Regions from separate parts of the Homo sapiens genome. Here regions 1, 3, 4 and 5 are each linked to region 2. The links come from fine-mapping of genetic effects on gene expression. A gene starts in region 2. Each other region holds a variant in brackets. All regions are shown on one strand. Distances are between the middles of the regions.

Evidence for each region. PIP is the estimated chance that this variant, and not a neighbour inherited with it, causes the effect. A credible set is the group of variants that fine-mapping cannot tell apart.
Region 1: its variant is the best candidate, but not a certain one, in a credible set for the expression of LRRCC1 in prefrontal cortex (GTEx, PIP 0.65).
Region 3: its variant is the best candidate, but not a certain one, in a credible set for the expression of LRRCC1 in left ventricle (GTEx, PIP 0.70).
Region 4: its variant is the best candidate, but not a certain one, in a credible set for the expression of LRRCC1 in whole blood (INTERVAL, PIP 0.55).
Region 5: its variant is the best candidate, but not a certain one, in a credible set for the expression of LRRCC1 in blood mononuclear cells (TOPMed, PIP 0.67).

Annotation. Positions count from the first base shown.
Region 1 is chr8:85,197,964-85,203,072 of GRCh38, forward strand. E2F5 (E2F transcription factor 5) reads left to right here. Exons shown (of 8, transcript NM_001951.4): 2 at 4,184-4,293. Among named protein-coding and RNA genes, the nearest start is that of RBIS, 20 kb to the right of the region's middle. RefSeq lists a silencer at 2,637-2,696. The variant G/A (reference allele first, on the strand shown) is at 2,214.
Region 2 is chr8:85,104,772-85,109,880 of GRCh38, forward strand. It overlaps LRRCC1 (leucine rich repeat and coiled-coil centrosomal protein 1), which reads left to right and starts at 2,467. Exons shown (of 19, transcript NM_033402.5): 1 at 2,467-2,628; 2 at 4,824-5,029. The coding sequence starts at 2,525. LOC105375933 (a long non-coding RNA gene) reads right to left here and starts at 3,091. Exons shown (of 3, transcript XR_929117.3): 1 at 2,788-3,091. RefSeq lists an enhancer at 2,579-2,638.
Region 3 is chr8:85,248,546-85,253,654 of GRCh38, forward strand. CA13 (carbonic anhydrase 13) reads left to right here. Exons shown (of 7, transcript NM_198584.3): 2 at 2,195-2,392. Among named protein-coding and RNA genes, the nearest start is that of CA13, 5.6 kb to the left of the region's middle. The variant G/A (reference allele first, on the strand shown) is at 2,513.
Region 4 is chr8:85,037,351-85,042,459 of GRCh38, forward strand. No RefSeq gene overlaps it. Among named protein-coding and RNA genes, the nearest start is that of LRRCC1, 67 kb to the right of the region's middle. The variant C/T (reference allele first, on the strand shown) is at 1,944.
Region 5 is chr8:85,154,317-85,159,425 of GRCh38, forward strand. No RefSeq gene overlaps it. Among named protein-coding and RNA genes, the nearest start is that of E2F5-DT, 20 kb to the right of the region's middle. The variant A/G (reference allele first, on the strand shown) is at 2,854.

The DNA.
Region 1 (5,109 bases), 93 kb after region 2:
TTGTCTTGCTTTTTTATATGAATATTTTGTACTTTCTTCTCTCCTCTCAACCATTAATAGCTCCTTTCCTTTCTCCCCGATCCCAGTGCTGATGAGAGAATAAAAATCAACCAGAAGGAAATGTCTAACCTTTCTCCCTACCTGGTCTACTAATGTACCTATATCTGTACCCAGGTACTCTGCTGGACTTCAGTTATTAATATGCCCTGTTATTATCTAAGGACAGTCCTCACTTATTGAATTCACATCCTGCCTTCCCTACTTATTGCCACCTCTAGCAGTCATCCCTTCTCTCTTCTGCATTGTTAATGATTCCTCTTTCTTTACCAGATCATTCCTATCAGCATACTCACATGTTGAAATAGCTCCCATCTTTAAAAGGAAAAAAAAAAACTTCCTGGAGACCCCACAGTTCCCTAAAAATATTGCCCCATTTCTTCTTACCTCTTTGCAGCAGAACTCTTCAAGAGTTGTCTATTCTAGCTTTCTTTCCATTCTTTCTTGAAATTTCTCCATTAAGACTTTCAGCCCCACCTCTCTGCCAAAACAGCTCTGATCAAAGTCACCCATGATCTTTCCAAAGGCAAATCACTGATCAGTTCTCACTAACTTGCTCTGACAGCAATACTTGATATGGTCACACTTTCTTACACTCTCTTCCCTTGGATTCCAAGACCCCACACTTTCTGATTTTCTTCTGACTTCAGTGGCAGGTTGCTCCCTCATTTCCTGGACCTTAAACTTCCCCAGAGTTGGTTCTTAACCTTCCCTTATATGCTCACCTCCTATGTCAAACTAGTGGATTCCATCTTGTGGTATAAACTGTCTATTCGCTGAAGACTACTGAATTTATATCTCTAGCTTGGATCTCTCCCCTAAGCACACACTCTCGTGTCCAGTGGTCTTGCTTTCTCCCTGTGGATGTCAGAAGGTTCAAGGCCAGTTTCTTTATTTCCAGTGCTCCAAACTGGTTCCTTCTGTAGTATACCTTATTTGTAATTGCTCTTATCAAAAACTGAAGTCATTTCTGATTCCTCTCTAGGGACCTGCTGCTTGCCATACCTTCAAAATATATCCAGAATGTTAACATTTTTCACCATCTTCATAGCTACCCCTCCATCCAAGCCACTACCATCTCCTGCATGGATTATTGCCATCGCCATCTTGTTGGTCTCCTTTCCTGTCTTTATCTCCTTTTTCCATTTTCCCTCTCATTATTCTGCCACACTGGCCTGCCTGCCTCTCCTTGAAGAAGCTAAGCACCCCTCACACTTCAGAACCTTCGTGCTTGCTGCTTCCTCTGCCCAGAATGCTCTACCACCAAACATTCACAGGGGTCTCCTACTCCATTCAAATGTTCAGATGTCACCTTGTCAGAGAGCTCTTTCCCTGAAAATCCTATTTGATATAGCACCTTCCTCTTGCCTGCATTCTCTCCAAACATAATTATTTGTATATTATTAACTTCCCTCTCTTCTTTGAGGGCAGGGACTTTGTTCTGTCACATCTATATCTTTAAGACCCAGAACCAAGCCTGGAACATTTTGGTGTTAAATGAATGGAGGAAGGTAGTGGTGATAGTGGTGGTGGTGGTGGTGGTGGAGATTCATGGTATTATTCTGTTAGATATTAAAGCCCCAAATTAGTTTTTAAAGAATTCACACACAACTTTTTCAAACACTATATAAAACAAGGTAAATCTGTATACACACAAACTTTAACCAATCTTAAACACAGTCTTACCCACGATCCGTTTCAACCTGTATTTGATGATGAGGCTGACTAGCCAACATTTAAGTAATCACTATACAGTAGACATTGCGGTAAGATTATCCAGTTTAATTCCCACAATACTCCTTTCAGTATATGTTATACCATTTTATGAAAAAGGAAATGAGGCTTAGTGAGCTTACGATGAGGCCAGCTGAAGATAGGAAGTGGCAGCCCTGGGACTGGATCTCAGTGTGTTTAGCTTCAGAACTTCTTAAGAATGATGGGACTGGCTGGGTGCCATGGCTCACACTTGTAATCTCAGCACTTTGGGAGGTCGAGGTGGGTGGATCATCTGGGGTCAGGAGCTCAAGACCAGCCTGGCCAACATGGTGAAACCTCGTCTCTACTAAAAATACAAAAATTAGCCAGTCGTGGTGGTACACACCTGTAGTCCCAGCTACTTGGGAGGCTGAGGCAGGAGAATCAGTTGAACCCAGGTG[G/A]TGGAGGTTGCAGTGAGCCAAGATCACACCACTGCACTCCAGCTTCGGCAAGAGAGGGAGACTCTGTCTCAAAAAAAAAAAAGAATGATGGGACTTTCTAAAATAAAACCCTCCTGGAGATTCTTTTACATATGATCTGTACATGTTAGTCATTTATATGTTTACATACTTAAATAGTAAAGTATTTGAGAAATAATGTTTAGTTTTAGAAACTAGGGGTTAAATGTTGTGATTGTTAAGCAGTAATAAATATAAATGATAAACAAGACACCTTTTTAAAACTTTGAGCTAAAAATTAAATCTCATGGCACTTTGCCTAATGACCTAAGCTAGATCTTGTGGTCTGGTTCATACAAACATGTTCTGATACCAAAACCAGAGTGCTGTTGCTATGGCTGTGAATGCTTTTCTGTGTGAGTACATAGATACCAGTAACACAGAGCCATGGCTTGGAGTTCTCTGAGTTACTTCTCTAGAGAGAGGAAAGTGAGAAATGAAACCTCAGCTTCAGATTTGTACCGTTAACTTTGCAGTCGTGTATTGCTCTTCATAAAAACAGCCTCGAAGTCAAGAGTAAAAATTCTGTGAAGGTCGATAAAACAAGAAGGGAATTGCTAAGTACAAGGGAAGAAGGTATCAATGAAACAAACCATGGCTAGTCCTGCTGTTAATTTTCTGGTTCTCTAGAAGGGACAGTGCCAAGTTAGAGTTGGGGAACAAAGAGCCCCACTCTCCTGCTTTTCCTTCTTCTGCCACATCCTGCTTATTCTCCTGGTCCACTGAGGCATGAATCCCCTTCTTGAGGAAGACCTGAATGATGGGACAGCAGTAACCTGGGGGTTTTGGTGGCACATACAAAAAAATGTGTCTGAGAGAACTGACATTTCTCTTAAGATCCCAAATGCCTGTACAGTGAATATAGCTGTCAGTGGCACCTTCTCTGGGGGGAAGGCAGGTCCAGATTGCAAACACTGTGCTGAGCTAGGTTTTCACAGAATCAAGAAAGTAGTGATGCTCTCTGGGAGAGCTGTTAGCAATTATGCGAAGCTGGGAGAGCTGTTAGCAATTATGTGAAGCTAAATCCTGTTCATTTAGATATTTTAGATAATGTGCTGAAAATTGTCAGTAGAGACACAAATATTTGTAACTACCATGGATCTTAAAATGTGGCTCCACATTCAAAATAGGCTATTGTCTAATCCACTCTGAAAACTTCTTTGAGGTTCTCTTTGTTCTTTTGGGAACACACATCAAAAATGTGAATTGGAACTAATCAGAGGAATTGTTTGTTGAATTCATAACATGATAGCATATATTGTTTTGTTGATCTTATCTAATGTGAATGCAGCTACCAAGTTTTTGTATAATAGTTGCTAGTGCAATCTTGAGCTATTGATTCTGATTTCTTGCTGATTTTATGCTTTGTGTTAGGATGGCATGATTCATTCCTCTGTTTTCGTTATTAATTTAAAAATGTAGATATTTATTTCAAGGTATTATAAGTGTGCATATAGTTCAGAATTTCCAAGTGTCTTAATTACCAAAATAAATTGCTGAGATGTAATTCTTTAAAATTTTAAAAAATAAGTAATGCATCTTTAGATGAGACTGTTTATGAACAGAGAAATAAGATAGGAGGTGACATGGATAGGCAATTAGTAGCTCCTCCTCAGGATTAGTCCATAAGGTGACACAAAGTATTCTTATTGTGTTCTTTTATTTTTGCAGGCTTTGTGTCATGACCTTAATTTCTTTTTCTGTTCCAACATCTGCTAGCTTTTAAATGGAATAATTTCTTTGGTATTTGCAGTGTTTGGGAGATGCTTTGAACATGCTCAGCTATTGTCCCCAAGCAACTGAGTGGGTCAAATTTGAGATTGGACTTGTTGTGGATTTAATAATCAACCCTTTTTGGCTTTAAAATATGACTTGCCCTTTATTTCACTGTTCTCGTTGTCTTTCCTGAACAGGCTGCTGATACTTTGGCTGTGAGGCAAAAAAGGAGAATTTATGATATCACCAATGTCTTAGAGGGAATTGACTTGATTGAAAAAAAGTCAAAAAACAGTATCCAGTGGAAGTAAGTTACAAACCAGCACCCTCTTCTGAAACCTTTTTTCTTCTCAGTGCTCTGTAAAATTTGACCTTCCCAATGTTTCTATCTCCCAAATCCTCTATTTCAGTCAGGCCCCTCAGCTTTCCCTGAACACACCTTTCTGGGCCTCTGTGTCACTCCTGTGTTGGGTGTTCCCTTGCTCTCTTGGATATTGGGTTTTCGCTCTTAAAATTCAAATCTTACTTTCTCCCTCAAGCTATTACTCATTTGGCACACATTGCATACTGTCTTGTATTAATCTCTTCCTAACTCTTTACCTGTCCTTGAGAGCAAGAACTACTTTCATAGGAATTTGTACTTTGTAAATAGTAATTAATTGAAACGCATGTTGTCATTAATTGTGGCCTGGTTATACGTTTGAATGTAACAATTTCTGTTCTTCTAATGTGTCCCCTTTGACCATAGTTTTTGTCTTGTTTTGTTTTCGCCAAAATTCCACCAAAACATTAAAATGTTGTAATTTATTTTACCAGCACCTCAGTCACATCCTGAGACTGCTAGGTGTGACTGCTGAGCACACTCTTTTGGTACCCAGTCACCAACCAGTCTGGCCTTCCAGATGACAAAAAAACACTGTAGGGAAGATTGAGAATTTTTGTAATTTGGTTGTTCTTGTCAATAAATTTTCTAAGCAAGAAGTATGGTGTTTAAAATTTTTAAGGATTTTAGTGCTTGATTTTAAGAGTGTAAAGACTTCTGTCTTGAATATATTACTAAATAAGTCAGTTTTATTACAGTAAAAATTAAGTGATATTAACCTAGATCTGATACTGAGGATAT
Region 2 (5,109 bases):
TGTTGGGTCATTTTTTAATCCATTAATTCAAGCTATATCTTCCAGGTGGAAAATTTATTCCATTTGCATAAGGTCATGATTGATACGTGAGGGCTTATTCCTGTCATTTTATTAATCCATTTCTGGTTATTTTTGTGTATTCCTTGTTCCTTTCCTTCTCTATCATTGTTTATGATTGTGGTTTGGTGGTTTTCTGTAATGGTAACATTTGAGTCCTTTCTCTTTCTTGTGTGTTTGATCTACCAGTGGACTTTATATTTTTGTGTGTTTTCATGCTGGTAAATATTGTCCTTTTGTTTCCATATGTAAGACTCTCATGAGCATTTTTATAGGTCCAGTCGACTGGTGATGAATTCTTTTGCTTTTGCTTATCTTGGAAAGACTTTATTTTTCCTTGGTTTATGAAGGATAACTTTGTTGAGTACTTGGCTGGCTGTTTTTTCTTTCAGCACTTTGAATTTATCATACCATTCTCTGCCGGCTTGTAAAGTTTTTGGTGAGAAATCCACTGTTAGTTTGTTGAGGGTTCCCTTATAAATGACTAGATGTTTTTCTCTTGCTGTTTTTAGAATTCTTTGTCTTTGACTTTTATCAGTTTGACTACAATGGGCCATAAAGGAGACTTTTTCTTTTCTTTTCTTTTTTGCGAAAGAAGACATGCAAGCAGCCAAGAAACATATTTTTAAATGCTCAACATCACTAATAATCAGAGAGATGTAAATCAAAACTATAATAAGATATCATCTCACAGCAGTCAGAGTGGGTTTTATTAAAAAGTCAGAAAATATGAGATGTTAGTGAGGTTGCAGAGAAAAAGTAATGCTTACACACCATCAGTGGGAATGCAAATTGCAGCCACTGTGGAAAGCAGTTTGGAGATTTCACAAAGAACTAAAAATAGAATTACCGTTCAATCCAGGAATCCCATGACCAGGTATCTAGCCAAAGAAAAATAAATTGTTTTACCAAAAAGACACCCGCATTCATATGTTTATTGCAGCACAGTAGCAAAGGCATGGAATGAGCCCTGATGCCCATCAATGATAGACTGGATAAAGAAAATGTGGCACATATACACCAACATGCAGCCATAAAAAAGAACAAAATCATGTCCTTTGCAGCAATATGGATGCAGCTGAAGGTCATTATCCTAAGTGAATTAACACAGAAACAGAAAACCAAATACCATATGTTCTCACTTCCAAGTGGCAGCTAAACACTGGATACACATGAACACAAAGATGGGAACAATAGACACTGGGGACTCCAAAAGGGGGAAGGCAAGAGTTGAATAACTACCTATCAAGCGCTATATTTACTATTTGGGTTACAGGATCATTAGAAGCCACAACCTCAGCATCGTGCAATATACTTATGTAACAAACCTGCACATGTACCCCCGAATCTAAAATAAAAAGTGAGATGAAATTTTTTTTAAAAGAAAACCTTTTTGCATTGTATCTGTTTGGGAACCTTTGGCCTCCTGTGCCTGGGTGTCTAAATCTCTTGCTAGACTTGGGAAGTTTTCATATAGTATTTTGTTGAACCATTTTTCCAACTCTATTGTTTTCTCTTTGCCTTCTGAGACTCCAAAATTTTGAATATTTGGTCACTTTATGGTGTCCTACATGTCATGTGGGTTTTGCTCATTTTTTAAAACATCTTTTTTATTTTTGTCTATATGAGTTATTTCAAAAGGAAATAGTCCACTTCAAATGGACTACTGCACCATTTGCTCCGTTTTAAAATATTACTATGCCTTAGGAAGCAATCTAGCCAGGAGGGTTATTTGACCTCACACAGGTATTGCTTTCCCACCTGTAATGCCATTCATCCAGAACTCCCCCTAACCCAGCAAGACTCTATTCAGTCATCAATCACTTCTTTTAGAAAACGTACCCACTACCCATATCACTCTAGAGTTGGTTTCGATGCCCTTGTGTTATTCTTAGCATTCGTCATACTGTATGGCAATTCTGTTTCCTCTATGGGGCTGCGAATGTTTCCAGGAACAAGAATAGGCTTCATCTTTTTCTTCCTCATACAGGGAAGTGACTGACATACAGTAAGGCATCCCACAAATTGTTCAATGAATCAACAGGAGGTGCAATGGCCAGAGGAACAATTTATACGTATGTAAGGCTATGTAAAGGCACGTAAAGCCAAACCGCTGTGAAAACCGCCTTCAGAAGTCAGTCGGCTACTAGGCAAATATACAGAAGCACACAGGACAAATCCATTCATTCTCCAGCTCCTACACGCCCGGGAAGCAGTTTTACTTTACAGCAAGTTCAAGAGTCGCACCGCAGATGCTGTAAAAACGAAAGAAGCCCACAGTTGGGACGAGGATTCCAGTTTTGCGTCACCGTCAAGGCGGGAAAGTTCCCGGCTGTCGGTTGGAGGGTGGGTCCTCGCCCCGCCCCGCCCCCTCGGGCCGCCCTTCCGCGCTTCCGGGAGGCTTGTCCCAAGCTCACGGACCCCTCGCTGGGTGCCGGTTAAGACCCCGCTCCCCGTCGCCAGTGCTATGGAGGCGGCGGCGGCGGTGGTGGCGGCAGAGGCGGAAGTGGAAAACGAAGACGGCGACAGCAGCTGCGGGGATGTATGCTTCATGGACAAAGGCTTGCAGAGGTAAAGGGCGCTCCGCAGCCAGGAGCGACCCGCGCACTCCCCAGAGCCGGGGCCACGAGTGGCTGGCGGCGACACCAGAGTGGAGGCGCGGCACTGCTTTACCAAGACCATAAGTGAACGCAGTCTGGCTTTCGGCCTCCCCGCTCCTCCAAAACTTACCTGCCGAAGTGCCAGGTTGAATGAGCCGTGGATGCCTTCCCGCCCGTGTCTCCTGCCCAGCGTTTCACACGACTCTGCTTAGCCTAGAAACTGCCCCAGGACCTTGTCCTCCACCAGCTTCTGACCACTCTTTCCTTCTGCTGGTTTTCCTTACTTACTGGTGGTTATTCCTTTGCTTGCCGTTTAATTGCTGGTTTTCTCGTGTTCTCTCGTCTTTCCTGTTCTTACCTCTGAAAAAAACCTGCAGGATAGTATCTCTGGCAGCTATGAGCGGGCAGTCGCTGCTGCCTGTTAGTTTTGCCTCAGTTCTCCTTGTCTGCATTCGAAATCATTTGTCCGTTACAGAACATTGCAATACATATATTCATATACTTTTTGAAAGTACTAAACTTACTATATTTAGTTCATCGTTTCCCTCTCTCTTGAAGCCCTGACTTGTGCAAAGCATATGAGGCACTTGGTTCTGTAATACTGTAAAGCAGGTCTCCACCTGCATTTCAGGCTCTTTAGTCTCGACCCGTAACATTTCTCCACTTACACTTTATTTACCTGTACTGAGCTACAGGCAATTCCATAGCAGACTTCTCTGTGCCTTTGCACATGCTGTTCCTTTGTAGCGTGTCCTCTACGCGAACTCTGCTACTGATAATTAAGCATCTTGTTCTGGATTCTGATTTAAACTTTGCCAGATGATCCCAAGAAGATGCTGTTCAAGGGACATTTTACATTTCTATTTAATACTAGCTGCCATTTACTGAATGCTATCTGTTGTGTGCATGTTATATACATTATCAGTAATCCTCACAGCAATTCTACAAGGTAGTAATTTTTCTCATTTACAAGTGATGAATGAGACTCAGAATCTATTGACAATTTGTTCATCTTTATACACTTCATGAAGAATTAAGTTCGGATTCAAACCCATTTTCCGTCTAATTTCACTATGCTTTTTCTATCTCACATTATCTGCACATTATTAATGTCGAGAAACTGAAATGTGTCAGAAAGTAAATGACTGTCATTAAGAGCATGTGTTAACAGCATAAGGTCTGGCACTAAATAAGAACTCAAGTAAATGACACAGCAGGATAAGTGGGAAATGCCCCAGATAGTCACATTTAAAGGTTGCTAGTTTGAAATTTGCAAATGCTTCCCTGCTGTCAGAGTTAGGTTTCCTACAGCTGTAAGATAGCTGCTACTCAACCTACAGCAGATGCCCGTGACATTGTGTGTTCCTGGGTGTATCTCCCATCTAGCAACTCCAAACTGTGTATGCTGTAGTTTGTGTTCCTGGAACTACTATCTTCAGGAGAAGCTTCAGTTATAAATAGTAATTGGAGTGAAGAGATGAGTTCTGTTTAGGGGAGATCCATTAACTTTCAACAAGGGAGGACAGGGACTTTTTCAATAGGAATTGCAATAACATGGTTTGTTTTTGAAAATGCAATAGACTGTGGATTAAATAGCTATTGCACACAAAGAAGAAAATAAAGTTATAATCTCCAGCATGAGATCTGGATTTACATATGCTCTGTTAGCTGCAAGAATTTGGGCAAGCTATTTAATTTCCATAAATTTAGGTATCCTTAAGATACCCACTGCTTAGAGTTATTGTGAGAATTAATTGAGGTAAGAAAACTGAGGCTCAGGTTGTCATTTGCTCAAATCACACAGCAAAACCGTGATAGAATGCAGATTCAAACTGGGATATTAACATTCCAAAGCCTTTACAGTTATTGACTACTATTCAGCACTGCCTTCAATATATGCTGATGACTGCACACAGGAGTTAGAAATGCCCACTGTCACTTGCCTGCCTTGAGCGGTTTCTTGTTTGTATAAATAATCCAAAATACTTGGTTGTGTTGTAAGAAGCACCGTGTTTTGTGAGACATTTCAAAGGTACCACAAATAGGAAAGATTTCATTCTAGAATGAATAGAGCACATATTTAGTATCTACGTGCTGTTTGGTTAATTTTAGTTATTTGGTCATGCTTTTAAAATCTATTTTTATAGTATATATTTTCTTTTATAGCATATCAGAATTATCTTTAGATTCAACTCTTCATGCCGTCAATCTTCATTGCAATAACATCTCCAAGATCGAAGCCATTGATCATATTTGGAATTTACAACATCTAGATCTGTCATCTAATCAAATAAGTAGAATTGAAGGACTAAACACACTGACAAAACTGTGCACATTAAATTTGTCCTGCAATTTGATTACAAAAGTAGAAGGTTTGTAAGTGATTTTCATTTAACACTTAGCGTAAGGAAAATGATTTAGGTCCATTTTTTTCCCCAAAAGAATGGAATAA
Region 3 (5,109 bases), 140 kb after region 2:
GGCCAGGAGTTCCAGACTAGCCTGCAGGGTCATGGGGGGGACAAGGAGAAGGAGGAGAGGAGGAAATTTTTTTTGGAAAAATTGAAAAAGGGGACCTCTTTAAGAGGCAGGGTACTGAACTGACTATGGTAGTTAGTAGATAATATTGGGAATGTGATACAAACAATTATTACTTTTATTTTATTTTGGTTTGACTTCTTTTTAAAATAGTTCTGTTTATAAATGACTGGAAATAGGAGAGCAAAGCAATTAGGAGAAGAAAGCAACTCTATTGATTGGAAGAATGTCACCTGCATATTGTAACACATGCATTGCGCATTTGAAATTGAATTTTCGTTAGGTTAACTCTTACTTGGTGGCAGTGAAATAGAAGGCTTTTTCTGAATTAAGGGGGAAAAAAGTCTAGGTTATATATAGAAAAAGTACTCAGAAAGATGGTGAAAGTATTGAATAAAAAAGGCTTTTTCTGTAATACATTCTAAGCAAGGACTTCTGATGCTCAAGTGGCTTTGAAGTCCAGTTTGTCAGATGACATCTTTTAAGCTGAGTGTATAGTTATATATTTATGCTATGACTTTTTGTGCCTGAAGCATATATGAAAGAATGTATGTATGTGTGAGTTCTCTTTTGCAAAAATGAGGCATAGTAAGCAGTATCAGATTTAGAGTTTGGGCCAGGCGTGGTGGCTCATGCCTGTAATCCCAACACTTCAGGAAGCTGAGACATGCGGATCACTTGAGCCCATGAGTTTGAGACCAGCCTGTAGTGAGACTTTCAACAAAAAAAAGTTTTTTATAAAAGTAGCTGGGTGTGGTGGTGCACACCTGTACTCTTAGCTACTTGGGAGGCTGAGGTGGAAGGATTGTTTGAGTTTGGGAAGTTGAGGCTGCAGTGAGCTGAGATTACACCTCTGCATTCCAGCCTGGGTAACAGAGCAAGACCCTGTCTCAAAAAAAAAAAAAAAAGATTTAGAATTTTATGCTTTAAAGTTTGTTGATGATTGTGATATATTGCATTTCTTTAAATATTACTCTAAATTTTATCATTTTAAAATGTTTTTGGTTGTCGTTAGTAACAGGTTTAATTAATTGTCATGCTATGATGTTTTAATTAGTACTTGATTTTTAGTGAAAGATTGGTTAGCAAAGTAGGTGGGTAAACCTTAGTCAGTAGCCCAGTGTAGGTGGTGATAGCTGTATAAATTTCAGGAATAGTAGAGAGAATAAGAACCTATAACCTATAAAGTGACTCACATCTGTAGAATGACATGGAACTTACGTGAAACTACAGCTTTGCTGCTGATTTTGAGAGGCAAGACTTTATAGAGTCTTCCAAAGAAGTGAAGAGGATTGAAAAGGGAACTGTTAGCTGATTGGCTCGTTTCAATTTCCCTAACATGTCTGATTTGTGAACTTGATACGATTTTGACGTTTTTGAGTAGAGGACCAGGATGATACCTTTCTCTTGTGTTGAAATTCAAATGTAACATTGGCAAAATAACCATAGAAGAACCTTCTGAAATGAAGAAAGAGAGAAATAAATTACAATCTGACTCTACTGCAGATAATCAACAATATTACGTTTCCTGACGTGGTGCAGCCATTTTATTTGGATTATCCTAGGTGAAAAATTTGTGTGTTTCCTTGGTATGCCTGTTGCACATCACAGGTAATTGAGTGGAGGCCTGAGTGACACTAGACGATAGCATTGAGTGATAGAAGGAAGAATAAAGAAGTAAGCACAGCATCTTTAAGAATGACACCCTTTCTTTGCTTCATGGCTTTCTCAGCTTTTTTGACTCTTCCAATCTGCAAACTTGAACTCTGGAGCAATAGCTCATTTTTGGAGCTGAGACTGAATGTCATTGTTTTCAATGATGAGTTGTATTATTGTTTTTAGTTTGGTAGAAGGTTACCTTTGGAGAGTATTTTATAAAATTTACAGACTCTTGTCTACAAGGGTTACTTTAATTCTGAACATGACTTAAGGCACACCAAGAGTTTCCCACATCTATAATAAAAACAACTAATCTTGTAAAAAAAAACAATTAGATGCCAAGGTCCTGAGGACGAGAATCTCATTTTATTAATCTTTGCGTTTTCTTCAATTTCAAGCACAGTGTGTTATACTCAATGTATGTTTGTTGAAAGAAAGAACTTATTTAATCCTTTTCTTTTGGTCCTATATATTTAAGGTCCTATTCACTGGAAGGAATTTTTCCCTATTGCTGATGGTGATCAGCAATCTCCAATTGAGATTAAAACCAAAGAAGTGAAATATGACTCTTCCCTCCGACCACTTAGTATCAAGTATGACCCAAGCTCAGCTAAAATCATCAGCAACAGCGGCCATTCCTTCAATGTTGACTTTGATGACACAGAGAACAAATCAGGTTGGCTTTTCTTTTTTTGTGTGTGTGGTGGTGGATGAAGGGTTTGAATGATTAGACTATACTCTTTTTTTTTTTTTTTTTTTGAGACAGAGTCTCGCTCTGTCGCCAGGCTGAAGTGTA[G/A]TGGCGCGATCTTGGCTTATTGCAACCTCCGCCTCCTAAGTTCAAGAGATTCTCCTGCCTCAGCCTCCCGAGTAACTGGGATTACAGGCGCACGCCACTATACCCAGCTACTTTTTTTGTATTTTTAGTAGAGACAGGGTTTCACCATGTTGGCCAGGATGGTCTTGATCTCCTGACCTCGTGATCCGCCTGCCTCGGCCTCCCAAAGTGCTGGGATTACAGGCGTGAGCCACCGCACCCAGAATACACTCTCTAATCTTTCATGTTTTGTTTTTGCTAGACCTGGAATTTGTCAAATTGAAGCATATTTTTCTTCGTGTGAATTAAGATATCTTGTTATATATTTGAACCTTCAGATAATCTTACCTTAAAATAATAAAGAGTATTTGGAAAAGGATATGTTGCATGATAATTTAAAATTGACCTTAGCTTGTTATTATAACTTCACTTAGCATTTACCATTATAAAAATATTAAAGTTTAATAGTTTTTATAGATATTTCATGATTTGTTTCTGCAAAGTTTTAGCCGTAATTATTTTAGCATTATTTGCAAACCTATAATGCCATTTAAGTACCTGCTTTAATAGAAAAAGTTTAGTTTAAAAAAAACTTATTCTCTTATTTTAATTGCCAAAGTAATATCCACTCATAGTAAATGAAACAATATGGAAACATATAACAAATATTAATGTCTCTTTCTTCCCACAGTCTCTCCTGAAGTAACTAATGTTATTTCTTCCATAATATTTCGGTGCTTAGTTATGTATACATACATGTGTATCATCCTTGTTTTGCATTTTCTTATTAAAAATACATTTGGAATAATGCTATATAACTCTGAATTTTTTTCTTGTTTAAAAATATTTTATAGACATCTTTCCAGATTAAAATATATCTTGTTTAAAAAGCTAAACTGCAGCCGGGTGTGGTGGCTCACATGTATAATCCCAGCACTTTGGGAGGCTGAGGTGGGAGGATTGCTTATGTCTAGGAGTTCAAGACCAGCTTGGGCAACATAGTGAGAACTTATCTCTACAAAAAATAAAAAATTAATCAGGCATGGTGGGGTGTGCCTTTACTCCCAGCTACTCTGGAGGCTGAGGCAGGAGGATTGCTTGACTTCAGGAGGTCAAGGCTGCAATGAGCCATGATAGTGCCACTGTACTCAGCCTGGGTGACAGAGCAAGATCCTGTCTCAAAAGATAAAAATAAAAGTAAAATAATTTTAAAAGTTGAATTGTATTAGCTATGCTTGTATCGTAATTTATGTACCATTCTCCTAACAATGGACATTGAAGGGAGGGAAAGTAGAAGTTTAATTTTTTTAAAAAAATAAATATATGAAACTTTTTTACTGTATATTCCCTATTAGTACTTTTTTCTAGAACACGTAATCATTTCGTTTAATGATTAGTTCTTGGGATAGTGTCTTTCACACCATGAATAAATAATGGACTTATAGATTATTTGTTAATTTATTAAATAAGTGATGAAAAAACATTTTCTTGAAGTGAATGTTTAATCCTTCTTCAGACTATCTACTGCCCAAGCAGAGATTCTGCCCAAGGTATCAAGTTTAAATGTAAGATGAGATAAAATATTAGAGAGAATCATATTTGGAAACACTTTTTAGGGCCTCTGACAGATTGTTTTTATTTTTAATCTAAGATCAGGATGATGCTGTATTTGCTCTATTAATGAAAAAATATAGTTAATTTTTAAAAATCCTTAATTGAAAGAAAGTTTTTACTTATTAATTGAGCCCAGATTTAGATTAGTAGTAATATCTTGTATTTATGTAAAGCCTTATTGTTAGCAAAAATTATAAGCCCAACCACATTTCTTCTTCATATTTGTCAAATTCATAAAAGTAGTAAGTTTTTTTTTCTTTTCTTTTTTTTTTTGAGACAGAGTTTCACTCTTGTTGCCCAGGCTGGAGTGCAATGGCACAGTCTCGGCTCACCGCAACCTCTGCCTTCCGGGTTCAAGCGATTCTCCTGCCTCCGCCTCCCAAGTAGCTGGGATTACAGGCATGTGCCACCATGCCTGGCTAATTTTGTATTTTTAGTAGAGACAGGGTTTCTCCATGTTAATCAGGCTGGTTTCGAACTCCCGACCTCAGGTGATCCGCCCGCCTCGGCCTCCCAAAGTGCTGGGATTACAGGCGTGAGCCACTGCGCCCAGCCTTTTTTTCTTATTTATTTATTTATTTATTTATTTTTTTGAGACAAGGTCTCGCTCCATTGCCTAGGCTGGAGTGCAGTGGTGCAATCATGGCTCACTGCAGCCTTGACCTCCTGGGCTCAAGCAATCCTCCTGCCTCAGCCTCCTGAGTAGCTGGGACCACAGGCATGTGCTCCCATGCCCAGCTAATTTTTGTATTTTTCATAGAGAAAAGGTTTTGCCATATTGCCCAGGCTGATCTTGAACTACTGGGCTCAAGGGATCTGCCCGCCTCGGTCTCCCAAAGTGCTGGGAGCCACCACACTGGCCTAAGTAGTACATTTTCATCAAAGCATTGTAAAAAATGCATAAAGACAAATAAATACATGGTATTTTCAACTTTTCGGAGGAAATGCCAAGTAAGGAGGGACCT
Region 4 (5,109 bases), 67 kb before region 2:
ATAATTGTGTATCAATGGAGTGTTGCTGCCATCATGTAAGTTTGTATCTTACTGAGATTGAGGACAAAAATTTATAATACTTTTTAGGAGGAAACTTAACAGGAGTTAATCAGAAATGGATAAATAGATTGCTGATCAAAAGTGATGGACCATTTTATTAGACAACAGGAATCTGCAATATCAATCATCAGGGTCTCCTCTGCACAGGTTTATGCTCAGCAGCCCAGGAGCATCAACTGAGAAAGCAAATGAACGGTTCTTGCAGTGCAGGTGGTCTTTCACTCCTGAATCCCATCTGTCTGGCTTCCCTGCAGGCCACTTCAAAGGACCTCCTCTCACAAGACCACTTGTGACATCCCTATTATTAAGTCCTAATTATCACTTCTGACATCTTGTTGCTTTGTAAGCTTCCCATTTCATGAAATCTCTATGCCATTTGTCACAGTTGTCCACTCCCTCCTGTGAAAATTTTGCTTTCCTAATTTTTTACATATTTGGCCTATAATTATGCCTACATTTGCCTTCCGTAAGGGTTAACCAACTTCACTTTTCATTTTATTGTCTATTTTGTCTATTCCAGAGTTAAGTCCTCTCCAACTATTACTTCTTTATCCAGGACAAATAAAATTCGACAAGTCTGAAACCAAATTTATTATTTATCTTAAAACCCATTGTACTGTATTACCTGTTCAGCACCATGATTCACTCAAAGCCCAAGCCAGAAACCTAGGAATCGTCAATTCATCCTACCTTCTCTTCCTACGATATTAACTTGATCACTGGATTCTTTTCAATTAACTTGCCTTACATCGTTCATGTCTTTCCCTTTCTTACTGGTACTGCCACAGTTCATTCTTTGTAACTTCTCAGTTGGATTGCCATGGGCAAGAGCCTGAGCAAGGATTGAAGTGCTGACACTTAAGTTAGAAGGTACAAGGTAGGAAAGGTGAAGATGAACCAAAAAAAAGCAGCGGGGCAAGGAAAGACTTGAAACGCATGCTACATGGCCCTGCTGGCCAGCATTTTAAACAAACTGCAAAGAAACACATCACATCTCTCAGCAGTGCGCTAGTTCAGCAAGGAGGACTTTCTGAATGGTTGCAAGAAAAAGCCATACCTTATAGGAAAGAAAAAAGGAGAGGGAATTTATAGGCTTGGTTTCCTTCTTCCTCCCACTTCTCATTGACCAAATTCCATCCTGCTGGGCTGCAAGTCTCCACAGACCAGGTTGTATCATCGAGCTACCTGATTTATCATTTGATCCATGTCTGGAGGTTTGGGGTGACTCAGCATGGACAGAGATAAACATGGTGGGGCAAGGGAAAACGTAAGAGCCACAGAGGCCCAAGGCTGAATTTAGATTTCAGCCACTTGTCAAGATTTTAATTTGGGCAAGCTAAGGAGTTCTTTTAGGCTTCTAGTACATGATACATATAGATTGCTAAGATTGTTTTCAAATTGAGAAAAAATTGTCTTTCTTGTATCTATGAACCAGATTTCTTTTATCTATGAACTAGAATATGTTGAAGAATGTCCTGCAGGCAAATTTCTGGCCCTGAACATTTCTCACTTGTTCCTCCTCACTCTCTTCCTTCTGGTATTGACACCATGGACACATTCTTATCACAGTATGATTCCAGGCCCTACATCTTCATTTCTTGATGTCAGTGAGTTGATGCAATGAGTGATAGCTTTTGTGGAAGTTATTCAGCGATACCAGCGAAAATTTAACTATGCACGGAAGTGACTATGAACCACGTAAGATTCCACTAAAATCAAATTAAAAGAATCCCAGGTCACGTTCCCAAAATTGCCTGTGACCATTCCAACACTACCTCACATGAGAAGTGTAACAGAGGTGAGTCAGAGTGGAAAGAGACAGCTCTTTTAGCCAATCGTGATTAAAATATCTTACTGTGGCAAATTTTTCAAAAACATAACCT[C/T]CTAAACACATCAATAGAGCCTCTCATCAGATTATGCAATTGAGAGGCCCTGAAGCTTCATTACCTTATCCACAAATCTGCACCAGTGCACCAGGTTTGTGGCCAATACTTGGAGCAAGGCTGCCTTTTGTACACACAGAGAGCTTAGAGTTTGGCAATATTAAAAGTCTTTTGATTCCTAAAAGCACCTCATTCTTTCATGCCTTTATGCATCATGCTTCCTCTGTCTCATGAAAGCTCTCCTTATCCTGGCTTCTTGTTCATCTAGTTTATTTTTCCTTCTCTATGAAGTTTTCCCCGATCCCTCCAAACACAACTCACCTCTTTGTGCCCCTCAAGCACCTAATGTCTACCATTATTTCTGCGTGTATTGATTCAATCATCAAAAGTGTATTGAGCAACTCCTATGTGCCTGATATATTGCCAAGATATGGCAGTAAACAGAAGAGACAAAGTCCCTGGCCTCACGGAGCTTACCTTCTAGTGGATGGATGTAGACAATAATCAAATATGTAAGTAAATGTGTAATATGGAAAGCTGTGATTTCTCAAAGAAAGAGAGATTTTTAAATTCTGGCTATTTTATAAATGTCCATCAGAATATAACTCAAAGGCAGTGAAGTTTGAAATTATTTGATATCTGAGTGAAGAGGTTTCCATGGGGAAGGAATAACAAGTACGAAGGCCCTGAGGTAGAAAGATGTTTGATGAATATGTGGCTGATAGGCTTTGGGTTCAAGGCATAACAAAGAGGCTGGAGCTGTTGAAGGAAAATGAGAGAGGAGGAGAGTATGAAAATATAGAGTCAGAGAGATGACCAAGCAGGTCCTTGAAGTCCTGCAGACATTGCAAAGAGCTTGGCTGTTGCTCTGAGTTTGGAAGCCATGGCAGGGGGCTGAAGCAACTGACTCACAATTTAAAATGATCACTCTGTTGAAAATCAACTGTGGCTACAAAAGCAAAATTTATAGCTTATTTATCTTTGAGTTAAGGGTAGAGAGAGAATATTATTTTAAAGCTGGCAGCAGTTGCTTAGAAAGAAAATGTTTGTTCAAAACGAAAGCCCTCAGGACATGGACAAATGCGCTAAAATAGACATAGAGAAAACAGAATTGTTTTGCATAATAGAGTTAGAGAAAGGTTGAGCTCTGGGCCCTGTGTGAGCAGGACATTAACGAATAGGGAGTCTTTGGAGGGAGTGGGACATCCCCAAAGCAGGAAATCAGGAGATTCAGGAATAAAGTAAGCTGTTGAGAAATTCCCTGTAGTGAGAAGAGAAACTCTTATGAAGAAAAATGTGAAATATCCAATTTTAGATAATCTAACCCATTTTTCAATAATACAGCAAATCCTTCCAAATCCTCAAAAAATAAAAAGTCTAATACATACAAATGTCTTATGTGAATAGTGTTTGCAGGAAATGAAGGGAAAAGGACTGTACCATTTGGGGCTGGCTTGAGTGGAGAGAAGAGATCAGGAACAGAGGATAAGATATGAGTACAACCAACTCAGGGGAGGTAAAAACAGAAGCAAGAGAGGACCACAGAGGCATTTTCATGAGAGAGATGCTGGGTATCTCATCATGGTAGGGAGGGAAGAGTTCAAGATGTTATTATTTAAATGGTAATGGTAATGGTCTCAATGGAAGAGTAACGGCCCAATGCTGGAGTGGATGGAAGCTGACAATAATTCAATGTAACCACCAGGGTTATGTTGGTATGCACAGTGTGCTGTGCACAATGATAAAGGGTGGGAATGAATGGTAAATCAATTGATGTCAAGGAATAAAATTCATTAAGAAATGAATTTTGAAATAGCTAACCACAATTTTTTGCTCAGTACTGATAATATTAGATCTAATATGTGCATTTACAGTCTTGCACCACATAACAAATTTCAGTCAATGATGGACAACATATAAGATGGTAGTTCCATAAGATTAAATACAGTATTTTTATTTTATCTTTTCTATATTTAGATACACAAATTCCATCCTGTTACAATTGCCTACAGTATTCAGTAATATGCTGTACAAGCTTGTAGCCTAGAAGCAATAGGCTCTACCATATAGCCTAGGCCTGTAGTAAGCTATACCATCTAGGTTTGTGTAAGCACACTCTATGATGTTTGAACAATGATGAAATCACCTAACTGCATTTCTCAGAATGTGTTCTCATCATTAAGTGATGCGTGATTGTATGTATCAGCTTTACAGTTCCATTATGCTTTTACTTTTTAAGCTAACATTTATTTTGAGCTTACTATGTTCCAAATCCTGTATTAAGTGCTTGATAACTCTATGATATAGTTATCATAACTACCCGACTTTAAATATCAGAACACAAAGTCTCAGGTAAAGTAACTTGCTCAATGAGGTAAAACTGGGTGGGACAGAGGCAGGATTTGAATTCAGGCTGCAGATTCTGAGAGTCCTTGCTGTTAACAATGACTCTGTATACCTCTCTTTCATGCGTCATGCATACATCATTACATCTCAGCTCACAAACATGCCATTAATTCAAAACAGGAAAGAACTGAATCTGTTTGGGGAAAAGTTCCTGTTAGATACTAAAATGTGCAATTGGAGAATATGCAAATTCTGTCAAAAAATGAACAAATGTTTACATTGGAGGAACCGTTAATATTGTAAAACAGAATAGAAATAGAGAAGGTGGCCCTGAACCATAGAATTAAAAATAGGAAAAAAGAAAACTAGAGTCATCAGAGTTTTGATGATATACATTTTCTAAACAAGAAGCTGCATGATTTCAATATAGCTGCTTGACTACACATCAGCCTAAATTAGACACTAACACTCTTAAATATAGTTATAGTTAAAATAGTCTGGACACAAAGGAACTGAAGACTGTACAGTTCATGCAACAAATAAGAAGAGTTTTAATCAATATATCTTGACTAAAGGAGTGTGTGTGTGTCTGTGTGTGTGTGTGTGTGTGTCCTTATGGCTGCTTTGAACATAAATTCAAAATGGTGACTCAGCCATCTTGGCCTTGTGGAAGACTTACAATCGCTACGATCGCAGTGTACATGATTAGATAATCAGGAAAGGGACAAACTGTCAAGAAAAGATTTAAAAAGGAGATCCCTGAGATGCTGATAAAACTTAAACCTATGTGGCTTTTTTTTTTTAACTTTCACTGGAAAAT
Region 5 (5,109 bases), 50 kb after region 2:
AGAGAAAGCAAGAAAGATCTAAAATCGACACCCTAATATCACAATTAAAAGAACTAGAGAAGCAAGAGCAAACACATTCAAAAGCTAGCAGAAGGCAAGAAATAACTAAGATCACAGCAGAACTGACGGAGTTAGAGAAACAAAAAAACCTTCAAAAAATCAATGAATCCAGGAGTTGATTTTTTGAAAAGATCAACAAAATAGACTGCTAGCGAGACTAACAAAGAAGAAAAGAGAGAAGAACCAAATAGACACAATAAAAAATAAAGGGGATATCACCACTGATCCCACAGAAATACAAACTACCATCAGAGATTATAGTATAAACACCTCTATGCAAATAAACTAGAAAATCTAGAAGAAATGGATAAATTCCTGGACACATACACCCTCCCAAGCCTAATCAAGAAGAAGTTGAATCTCTGAATAGACCAATAACAAGTTCTGAAAGTGAGGCAATAATTACTAGCCTACCAACCAAAAAAAAGTCCAGGACCAGATGGATTCACAGCCAAATTCTACCAGAGGTACGAAGAAGAGCTGGTACCATTCCTTCTGAAACAATTTCAATCTCTATTAAAAGAGGGAATTGTCCCTAACACATTTTATGAGGCTAGAATCATCCTGATATCAAAGCCTGGTAGAGACACAACAAAAAAAGAGAATTTTAGGCCAATATCCCTGATGAACATCAATGTGAAAATCCCCAATAAAGTACTGGCAAACTGAATCCAGCAGCACATCAGAAAGCTTATCCACCACAATCAAGTTGGCTTCATCCATGGGATGCAAGACTGGTACAACATATGCAAATCAATAAACGTAATCCATCACATAAACAGAACCAACGACAAAAACCACATGATTATCTCAATAGATGCAGAAAAGGCCTTCGACAAAATTCAACAGCCCTTCATGCTAAAAAGTCTCAATAAATTAGGTATTGATGGGACATATCTCAAAATAATAAGAGCTATCTATGACAAACCCACAGCCAATATCATACTGAATGGGCAAAAACTAGAAGCATTCCCTTTGCGAACTGGCACAAGACAGGGATGCCCTCTCTCACCACTCCTATTCAACATAGTGTTGGAACTTCCGGCCAGGGCAATCAGACAGGAGAAAGAAATAAAGGGCATTCAATTAGGAAAAGAGGAAGTCAAATAGTCTCTGTTTGCAGATGACATGATTATATATTTATAAAACCCCATCATCTCAGCCAAAATCTCCTTAAGCTGATAAGCAACTTCAGCGAAGTCTCAGGATACAAAGTCAATGTGCAAAAATCACAAGCATTCCTATACACCAATAATAGACAAACAGAGCACCAAATCATGAGTGAATTCCCACTCACAATTGCCACTAAGAGAATAAAATACCTAGGAATACAACTTACAAGGGATGTGAAGGACCTCTTCAAGGAGAACTATAAACCACTGCTCAACAAAATAAAAGAGGACACAAACAAATGGAAGAACATTCCATGCTCATGGAAAGGAAGAATCAATATTGTGAAAATGGCCATACTGCGCAAGGTAATTTATAGATTGAATGCTGTCGCCATCAAGCTACCATTGACTTTCTTCACAGAATTGGGAAAAGCTAAAGTTCATATGGAACCAAAAAAGAGCCCGCATTGCCAAGACAATCCTAAGCAAAAAGGACAAAGCTGGAGGCATCAGACTACCTGACTTCAAACTATACTACAAGGCTACAGGAACCAAAACAGCATGGTACTGGTACCAAAACAGATATATAGACCAATGGAACAGAACAGAGGCCTCAGAAATAACACCACACATCTACAACTATCTGATCTTTGACAAACCTGACAAAAACCAGAAATGGGGAAAGGATTCCCTATTTAATAAATGGTGCTGGGAAATCTGGCTAGCCATATGTAGAAAGCTAAAACTGGATCCCTTCCTTACACCATATACAAAAATTAACTCAAGGTGGATTGAAGACTTAAATGTAAGACCTAACACCATAAAACCCTAGAAGAAAACCTAGGCAATACCATTCAGGACATACACATGGGCAAAGACTTCATGACTAAAATACCAATAGCAATGGCAACAAAAGCCAAAATTGACACATGGGATCTAATTAAACTAAAGAGCTTCTGCACAGCAAAGGAAACTATCATCAGAATGAACAGGCAGCCTACAGAATTGGAGAAAATCTTTGCAATCTACCATATGACAAAGGGCTCATATCCAGGATCTACAAAGAACTTAGACGAATTTACAAGAAAAAACAACCCCATCAAAAAGTGGGCAAAGGATATGAACAGACACTTCTCAAAAGAGGACATTTATGCAGCCAACAAACATATGAAAAAATGCTCATCTTCACTGGTCATTAAAGAAATGCAAATCAAACCACAATGAGATACCATCTCACAGCAGTTACAATGGTGATCATTAAAAAGTCAGGAAACAATAGATGCTGGAGAGGATGTGGAGGAATAGGAAGGCTTTTACACTGTTGGTAGGAGTGTAAATGAGTTCAACCATTGTGGAAGACAGTGTGGCAATTCCTCAAGGATCTAGAACTAGAAATACCATTTGACCCAGCAATCCTATTACTGGCTATATACCCAAAGGAGTATAAATCATTCTATGATAAAGACACATGCACACGTATGTTTGCTGCGGCACTATTCACAATAGCAAAGACTTGGAACCAACCCAAATGTCCATCAATGATAGACTGGATTAAGAATATGTGGCACATATACACCATGGAATACTATGCAGCCATAAAAAGGATGAGTTCATGTCCTTTGCAGGTACATGGATGAAGCTGGAAACCATCATTCTCAGCAAACTATCACAAAGACAGAAA[A/G]CCAAACACCACATGTTCTCACTCATATGTGGGAGTTGAGCAATGAGAATACATGGACACAGGCTGGGGAACATCACACACCAGGGCCTATTGGGGAGTGGGGGCCTGGGAGAGGGATAGCATTAGGAGAAATACCTAATGTAAGTGTCGAGTTGATAGGTGCAGCAAACTAACATGGCACATGTATACCTATGTAACAAACCTGCACATTGTGCACATGTACCCTAGAACTTAAAGTGTAATAATTTTTTTTAAAAAAGGCACAGAGTGGCAACTTGGATAAAGAAGAAAGACCCATCAGTATGCTATCTTCAAGACCCCCATCTTACATGCAATGACACCCATAGGCTCACAAAAGGACAGAGAAAAATCTACCAAGCAAATGGAAAACAGAAAAGAACCAAGTGTTGTTATCATAATTTCAGACAAAACAGACTTTAAACCAGCAAAGATCAAAAAGGACAATGACGATACATGATGGTGTAAAGTTCAGTTCAATAAGACCTAACAATCCTAAATATATTTGCCTACAATACAGGAGCACCCAGATTCGATAAAATTCAACTTCCCATCAGTAAAAGCCCTCAACAAACTAGACATTGAAGGAACATACTTCAAAATAATGAGAGCCATCTATGACAAACCCACAGCCAACATCATATTGAATGGGCAAAACCTGGAAACATTCCCCTTGAAAATCGGAACAAAACAAGGACACCCTCTCTCACCACTTCTATTCAACATAGTACTGGAAGTGCTAGCCACAGCAATCAAACAAGAGAAAGAAATAAAGGGCATCCAAATAGGAATGGAGGAAGTCAAACTATCCCTGTTTGAAGATGATATGATTCTTTACCTAGAAAACCCTATAGTCTCTGCCCAAAAGCTTCTTAATCTGATACTTCACCAAAGTTTCAGGATACAAAATCAATGTACAAAAATCAGTAGCATTGCTATACACCAACAACATCCAAGCTGAGAGCCAAATTAAGAATGCAATCCCATTCACAATAGCCACAAAAAGAATGAACTGCCTAGGAATACAGCTAATCAGGGAGGTGAAACATCTCTATAATGAGAATTACAAAACACTCTTCTAAGAAATCAGAGATGACACAAACAAATGGAAAAACATTCCATGTACATGGATGGGAAGAATCAATAATGTCAAAACAGTTATACTGCCCAAAGCAATTTATAGATTCAATGTTATTCCTATTAAACTACCAATGTATTCTTCACAGAATTTAAAAAGGCTATTTTAAAATTCATATGGAACCAAGAGCCCAAATATCCAAGGCAATCCTAAGCAAAAATAACAAAGCTAGAGGCATCACATTACCTGACTTCAAACTATATTACAAAGCTACAGTAACCAAAACAGCATAATACTTGTATAAAAACAGACATATAGGCCAATGGAACAGAATATAGAGCCCAGGAATAATTCTGCACACCTACAACCATCTGATCTTTGACAAAGTTAACAGAAACAAGCAATGAGGAAAGGACTCCCTATTCAATAAATGGTGCTGGGATAACTAGTTAGCCATATGCAGAAGAGTGAAACTGTACCCTTTCCTGACACCATATAAAAAAATCAACTGGTCTGGGTGTGGTGGCTCACACCTGTAATCTTAGCACTTTGGGAGGTCAAGGTGGGCAGATCACTTGAGGTCAGGAGTTCCAGATCAGCCTGGCCAACATGATGAAACCCCCTCTCTACTAAAAACACAAAAATTAGCTGGGCGTGGTGATGCACACCTATAGTCCCAGCTACTCAGGAGGCTGAAGCATGATAATTGCTTGAACCCGGGAGGCAGAGGTTGCAGTGAGCCAAGACTGCGCCACTGCACTCCAGCCTGGGTGACAGAGTGAGACTCTGTCTCAAAAAAATTATATAAAACAAAATGAAAATAAATAAATAAATAAAAGGCAATAGTAAGTGTTGACAATGATGTAGTAATAGGAATCCTCATACACTGCTAGTGGGAATATACAATGGTGCAGCCACTTTGGAAAACATTCTGGCAGTTCAGCAGAAGGTTAAACATAGAGTTGTTATATAATCCAGTAATTCCATCCCTAGTTACATACTCAGGAGAAATGAAAATTTTGTCCACCCAAAAACCTGTACGCAAATGTTAACAAGAGCATTATTCAAAAGATCCAAAAGGTGGAAACAATCCAAATATCCATCATGTGATGAATGGATAAATAAAATGTGGTATATCCATACAATGGAATATTATTTGG